Linked DNA regions of Homo sapiens. The protein of the gene in region 1 purifies or fractionates together with the protein of each later gene. This does not show direct contact. Each region holds a gene or a part of one and is shown on either strand. Other genes may lie near its edges. The genes, in order: OTUD7A and OTUD5.

Evidence for each region.
Region 2: the proteins of OTUD7A (region 1) and OTUD5 purify together in Homo sapiens (affinity purification with mass spectrometry; one large-scale study listed by BioGRID and IntAct). This does not show direct contact.

What each region holds. Positions count from the first base shown.
Region 1 is NC_000015.10:31,524,674-31,528,482, forward strand, and holds part of OTUD7A (OTU domain-containing protein 7A), read right to left. Parts: intron 2,636-3,809; coding exon 2,508-2,635; intron 1,789-2,507; coding exon 1,676-1,788; intron 507-1,675; exon of another isoform or gene 427-506; intron 1-426. UniProt on the Homo sapiens protein: Deubiquitinase, which cleaves 'Lys-11'-linked polyubiquitin chains. Might be required for PA28-20S proteasome assembly.
Region 2 is NC_000023.11:48,950,970-48,954,778, forward strand, and holds part of OTUD5 (OTU domain-containing protein 5), read right to left. Parts: intron 3,731-3,809; exon of another isoform or gene 3,679-3,730; intron 1-3,678. UniProt on the Homo sapiens protein: Deubiquitinating enzyme that functions as a negative regulator of the innate immune system. Has peptidase activity towards 'Lys-48'- and 'Lys-63'-linked polyubiquitin chains. Can also cleave 'Lys-11'-linked ubiquitin chains (in vitro).

The DNA.
Region 1 (3,809 bases):
CCGGGTTCTTCCTTCTCTTTTGTGATGTGGCAGCCAGAACTATGGCTCCCAGGGGCAGGGGACCAGGCTATCCTACATAAATGGGACAATGTCTGGGCCATTTTGGATATTCCTAAAGGGACCTAATCCTTTTGTTAGATTAAGGTTGATCACTCAGACTCTGTGGGAGATAGGGACAGACACCAAGTGGCCCCTGTGTCCCCATTAGCATCTGAATCCCTCGGGCCCCAGGGAGCAGGCAGCAGGGTACCAGACTGTGGCCTTAGGAGTCAGATGGGCTGACTAGCCATGAGACCTTGGGCGAAGCTCCTCCTGGATGGGGGTACTCAGGAGATGTGTATGTGATGGTCACCTGTGATTGATTTTCACCCACTATCAAAGTCATCATTGCTGCTGTCTTTCCCCACTCCTCCCTGTCCCTGGCAGAGACACCTGGCCTGGATCCAGTCTGCCAGCACCTATCAGGCGTCCTCCCTGTGGCAGGAGGGAGAGAGGCAACTGTGAAAACGATGTCGAGGAACACTTAAGACCCATCACAGGCAGGACTCGGGAGGCGTGCAGAGGAAGAGAGCAGTTTTCCACAGTCGACTGAGTCTTCAGAATGCTTGTCCTCAAATGTCCTGCCAAGATAGACTGTTGGTATGGACATAACATAGCCTTAAAACACAGTGACAAGACAGCCCTGGAGGAAGGGTGTGCCAGCGTATGTGGGTTTCTAATGATTTCATCTTCAAACATGGTCTTGGACGCCACTGCTGCAGCTGCAGCTCTGTGGGAGCCTCTTTTCCAGCCGGGGCCTCCAGGGAGAGCTGGCCCATGAGGCACTAGGCCCTGCCTTGGTGGGTGGGTGAGGACCCAGTTGCCCGCTGCAGGGCCCATGAGCCTGAGGGCAGCCTGGAGCTGCATGCAATCCTCCTTCCATGGGTCTCCCTGGTGTTACTGCTCACACTTTCTCATGTTTGGCTGAGACCTTCTCTAGGAGCAACACCTTTGCTTTCAGGTTCCAGAGAATATGAACTGAAGAATAAGCCGCGGCCAAGGCTCTATGGCTGCCCCACTGGTCTGGCCACGGTCTTCATTCCATACTAGAACATCCAAGGTGTTTCTGTAGGAACAAGCTATTCCTAAACATGCACAGATGTGAAGTCTTTTTGCTGGGAACACATATAATATCCATGGAGCCCATCTGGGAAACACCAGGCTAGCTTAATGAGCTTCTGCTTTCAGGGCAACTTCTTGAAGCCACAAATTAATTAGTTGGGGGAGAAAACCCAAACTTCAGAGCCAGGTTCGTGCGATGGCAATGTGTGGGAATGCTCACCATCACGTGTGACCTCCAGAGGCCTGCTGTGCCCTGAAGGCGCACACCCCAACTGTTGTGCACAATAAAGTTCAAGGAAAGTGGCCTGGAGGCAGCTCATGTGAGCTCACCTCTGCCTGCATAGTGCATGTGGGGGCTGCATACCCTTCCACTAGCACCTGGCGGGGCCAGCCATCACCCACGGTCCTCCCGTGCGTCCTTGTCTTGAAGCTAATGCTGGAAAGCTGGAATCTTTCTGTCTTCCACAGCACAAGAGTCCCACATTCCCCCCCGTGCCATCCCCCCATGCTGTGTGTAGCCCTGGGTGGCCTGGAGCTGGAGGTGACTTCTGGGGAGAGCAGGGGCAGCACTTACCCCCCGCCCGTGCCGCCATTCTTGCTGAAGTGTGTGCGCGGCTCGCTGGAGGCCAGCTTCAGCAGCTCCGTCCACTCCCGCTCCCACTCCTCCTCTGTGTACACCAGCCCTGACTGGCAGAGGGGAGCCGGCTCAGAAGGGGGGTGGGCCACAGCTGCGCTGCCCTCCTCTCCTCACCCTCCCAATCTGGACCAGCCTCACCGGGACCCAGGCCAGGCACATCTGTAGGTAGCTACCAACTATACCAACTGCACCCTCTTGGCCACCTTTGCTATGCACAATATATTTTCAGAAGCCCCAAGCTCTAATTCCAGAGCTGCTGGGAATCTGCCCACCAACAAGGGTCATTCTCAGGGGCTGGGGATGACCGAGCATTAACCTGTGCCTGCACCTAACTGGGGCTGGCCGTTCAGATTCTTCTAGGAGAGCAAGGTCCTCATGTTTACCATGGTTGGGGACAATCGGGAATCCCTTTGGACTGAGCTCACACACAGGGGCTGGGGCCATGGGCTGCACCTGACAGCAGGCAGTCATATATATAATTCATCATCCAAGCCAGGATGCTTTTGGGAATGAAGGTAGGCAGCTTTCATGATTATGCCTTAAGGAAGCACAAGTGGACGCATAGTTGCTGTCTGCCGGGACTCTGCTATTTTAACAGGCTCCTCCTCTGTGGGCTTAAAAGCAGGAGACTTTCCTGATCCCAGGGGCTGTTTCTGCCTTCCCCTCATAAGACTGTCTGGGGCCTGGAGGCCATGCTGTGGACTCGACCACGGCCCGAGGCTGCATCTGGCCTGGGTCCCGGGCTCTGGCCATGCCAGTGGATACCAACCTCCTTATTCTGCTGCGTCTGCTGCCACCTCCACCTCCGCTTCAGGGCTTCCCTCTCAGCTCCCGTCCTCATCATGGTATAGAGAGCTTTCCGTAACACCAGGTCCCGGTCGTGAAACCCCCACATTCCTGGAGCCAGGAGGCCAGGGAGAACAGAGGAGAGAAAGGACATGAGAAAAGACAAGCCAGAGGTGATGCAAACTACCACGACCCACTGGGAGAGCCTCCTGTCTGCACGCAGAACAGCCTCCTTACTCAGCGGTTCTGTTAATTCCCCTCCAGCCTTCTTCCTGAGGCTTCCCATTAAGGCAACTAGGTGAATGAAGCAGCACATCCTGTTCTTAGCAAAACAATAGTGGGTGAAAATCAAGTGCTTTTCCTCTCTGGTGCCCTTGGCAACCCATTCTCAATGTTGCTGGTTTGCTTTGAGGACCTAATGGTCATTATTCAAGTCTTACATTTGGGTGGGGGACTGACTAGGGGACAGGGACAGGCTGTCCAGTGTCCTTATGGAGGGCTCCAGGTGAGGGAGGCCATTAGCATCCTGGCTTCTCCAGGGTCTGCCATTTCCCTCCTCTCCAGCCCTGAGGCATCTCAGCTTCCTGAGAAGCAGAGCGTCAGTGACACCACTGCACACACCTGGCCCAGGAGAGAGCGCCTGCTTCCTAGTGAGAGGGTCTCACCCTGTGCCAGGTGCTGAGAGGATATAGAGAGAAACCAGCCATCTCTGAGAATGTGCTCTGGGCAGCTTAGATGTGATCAAGAACCCCAACTCATGGGAGAAGTGCTCAAGAGAAGGGCAGCTCTGGCTACAAGGGAAAACACAGGGGAATCCATCCATCCATCCGTCCATCCAGCCATCCACCCACCCACGCACCCACTCACTCATTCTAGGTGCTGGGAATATATGTGGCAGTGGCCGGGACACATGAAGTTCCTAAAATCTCATGGAGCACATGTTGTGGGGAAGTGGGAAGTGAGGATAGCCACGAGGCTGGCACAGAGTGTACGATGTTGAGGGTGGCAGCCCCACGAGGAGAGGTGAGGCAGGCAGATCTGCTGTGGCGTGAATGGAGACATAGGAGCAAAGGCTCAAATGGGTGGAGGAAGGAGCCAAGTTGCTGTCCCAGCACAGGGAAAGGCCAGGGACAGACCCAGAGGGGGCAGTACTTGAGAAAAGGCAAGAGGGAAAGGTGGCTAAAGTGGGATCGAGGAGAGAGGGAGAGTGAAAAGGGGGCTCTCGAGGGAACTGTGAGCCTCTGGAGAGTCTACAGAAGGAGAGTAATGTGAACTGATGTTTTCA
Region 2 (3,809 bases), on another chromosome or scaffold:
CCTCACAGGTGTGAGACAATATGGCATGGATCCCGCTCTGCAAGGTCCACCTGCCTACCATCCTCCAGGGTGGGAGGTTAGAATTAAGGCAGCAGGGGCCTGGAATCTCCCTTCTCACCCTGGGAAACTACTGACCCTGCCTATGGATGGATGAGCTGCCACTGAAGTGGGGGTGGGGTGGGGGGGCAAAAGATGGCAGCAGCAGTGGCAGTTCATGGACAGATGTCTTCCCAGAGCCTATGGTCAAAAGGTGTTTAGCATTCTGTGACTCACAGCTCTGTCCCAGCAGCCCTGGTGCCAAGACCACCCCCTCCAGCAAAGCACCCAGGAACACTAGCCTGGCTCCATGGACAAAACACAGGGGGCCAGGCGTGGTGGCTCACGCCTGTAATCCCAGCACTTTGGGAGGCCGAGGTGGGCGGATCACGAAGTCAGGAGATCGAGATCATCCTGGCTAACACAGTGAATCCCTGTCTCTACTAAAAATACAAAAATATTAGCCAGACGAGGTGGCAGGCACCTGTAGTTCCAGCTACTCGGGAGGCTGAGGCAGGAGAATGGTGTGAACCTGGGAGGTGGAGGTTGCAGTGAGCCAAGATCGCGCCACTACACTCCAGCCTGGGGGACAGAGTGAGACTCCATCTCAAAAAAAAACACACACAGGCAACCCATCCAACGAGGAACATAGACACACTACTCTCTAAGGACCAACACAAGCCCTCCAGGGCAGAAGGGGAGAAGAGCAAGGCCCCAACATTTGGCTAGGCCACTGAGGGCAGGGGGATTAAAAACCTCTAAGATTGGCAGGGTGCGGTGACTCACACCTGTAATCCCAGCACTTTGGGAGGCCAAGGCAGGCAGATCACCTGAGGTCAGGAGTTCAGGAGACCAGCTTTGCCAACATGGTGAAACCCCATCTCTACTAAATATACAAAAATTAGCCGGGTGTGGTGGCAGATGCCTGTAGCCCCAGCTACTTGGGAGGCTGAGGCAGGAGAATCACTTGAACCCGGAAGCCGGAGGTTGCAGCGACCTGAGATTGCGCCACTGCACTCCAGCCTGGGCAGCAGAGCAAGACTCCACCTTAAAAAAAAAACAAAAACAAAAACAAAAACCAAAAAACAAAAAAACCCAAGGTCCTGTTATTCAGTAATAGAAAGGAATGAAGCACTGATGTATGCTACAACATGGATAAGCCTTGAACATATTATGCTAAGTGAAAAAAGCCAAGTAACAAACAACTGCATATTCTATTATTCCATTTACATGAAACATCCAGAACAGACAAATCAATCAAGCCAGAAAGTAGATTAGTGGTTGCCAGAGGCTGGAAAGGGATGAGGAAATTGGGGGATCATAGCTAAAGAGTGCTGGATTTCTCTTTAAGGTGATGAAAATGTTCTAAAATGGACTGTAGTGATGTGATGGACGCACAAATCTGTGAATATACTAAAAGCCACTGAACTGTACACTTCAAAGAGGTGAATAGTATGGTACATGAATTACATCTCATTAAAGTTGTTAAAAGAAACACACCCAAGGGCTCAGCACCAGCCAAGGACGCTGAACACTGCTTGAAATGTCCTAGCACAATCCCCAAAGGCCAAGGGGTCCCACTTAAAACTTTCATGAAGGGTGAGGGGAGTGGGAGCAGGGAGGAGACTATAACTTGCTTCAGAGCAATGAGTCCAACCTCCCTCCTCAACACTACCCATTTCATGGAGGGAGAAACCAAGAACCAGAAAAGAGAACTGCCTGAAGACCACAGAAAAGCTTACTGCAGAAACAGGACTCAAATCCACGTTGCCTGGGCAGAGACCCCTTCCTGCTTCCCCACCAGCTAGCTACCCAATTCCAGTTGGGGTAAGAAGAGCCCAAGAAATCAGCAGGTTCCTAGATGCCAAATGAAGGGCCTTTGCTATCAAAGATAGGTTACTAGGAGTGGACAAAGGCTCCTAGGAAGAACCAAGATGACCCTGGGGCAAACTGCCCATTCTGGGCAAGAGGAAGAACCGGCCAAGGTCCAAGGTGTGCAAGGTCAGACACACCTGGGCATGGACAAACTTTTGCAAAATGGGCAGCTGAGGGGGCAAGTAGTTTGCCTAAAGCTATAAAGCAGGTAAGGAGGAGATGCTGAGGTCTGGAGGTGATGAGAGAATTGAGGGATGATGGCTCAAAGCTTGCCTTGCTCCAAAGCCCAAACTCCACACACAACTCTACCTCTCTACACCACTATCCAACAGGCCTCCTGACAGGAAATCCCATCGAGCTTGTTCATTACAACATGGCTGCCCACAAAAAATGGCTGTTCATCAACCCTGAGCCTCACACAAAACAGGCTGCTTGTCCTGCCCACCAAGCTTGGATGGCTGAGAGGGAACAGAGGAGCCAGGAAGAGAGGGGAGAAACCCAGTTCCTCCTCAAAAGACATCCACCATTCTTTGCCACCTCCAGGTCCAGAGAACTTTGGACTGAGTTCCCTAAAATCCCAAAGCTAAACAACACCTCACCAGCATTTTGCCTGGCCAGTGAGGAAACTGAGGCCCAGAGAGCATAGGTAGAACCTACCCTGGTTCATCCAGCAAAGCCTTGAAAGACCCAGAGTTGGAACCCAGGCACCAACTACCGTGCCACACCCAGCTTTTTCCACCACCTCAGTTCACATGCCCCTTCTCAAAGAGCTCTGTGGGGTCTCCAAACTCAGGATGCTTACAGGCCAACCTTTTCATAGAGCAGACTCTCAGCAAGGCAGCCATGCCTGGGAACCCCTGACATCACCACCCACCCAGCACCTGGACCCCAGAGTGCCAAAAAGACTCCTAAAGGAAGTAGGGATACAAGAGAATCAGGACAAAGAGGAAGCCCAAGTAGTCAGAACCCCAGAATCGCCATCTAGACTCCCCCTCAACGACGCCTCTCTTCCCAAGGGATCCAACTGACCTCCAGGCTACAACCACCCCTAGTGACAGTTTAGGACCAAGACTGGGGTGGCAGGAGGAATCTTCCCTCTTCTCATCCCCAAAAGCTCTCAAGTTGGACCAGGTGAGGCAGGGAGAAGAGGATCACCTTCTTTGTCCTAAGAAGTGTGGGGACAGAAAGCCTCTCCTGTCATTGGGAAGGGCAGGTTTCATGAACCCACAAAACTTGATTTTCATATTCTTTTTTTTTTATTAGTAAAGATGAGGTCTCGCTATGTTGCCAAGCAGGTCTTGAACTCCAGGGCTCAAGTGATCCTCCCGCCTCAGCCTCCCGAGTAGCTGGGACTACAGGCATGCGCCACTATGCCCGGCTTACTCTTATGTTCTTATGGGGACAAGTATAAGGGAGGGACTGCAAGGGGCATAAGGAAGTGTTTTTGAGTTACCATGGCAGCATAGGATGTTCTTTCTCTCTGTCCCTGGGACCAGGGATGTATCGCAAGGGAGGGGAGTAAGGAGGTGTTTTTGAATTATCATGGCTGCATAGGATGTTTTTCCTCTGTCCCTAGGACCAGTGATGTATGGCTCCCTGCTTCTAGAGGAGGAAAGAAACTACCCAACCAGAGAGAGAAGAAATAACTGGTCCTGACCCTTGAGTACAAATGGCTTATCGTGCCAGAATTAATGATGGGAGGAAGGGACCAAGAACAAGGAGCTCAAGACAAGGCTTGGGGCCCCTGTGAAGTACAGAAAGATTTACCTGAGCCAAGGGGAAAAGGAATGTGGGAGGAGAATTTCCCCAGAGTGGCGATGTCCCAAACCCCTTTCCTGTCCCTGGGAAGAAAAAAGCTTGTCAAAAGCAGTTCAAAACTTATTATATGACCTAGAGGT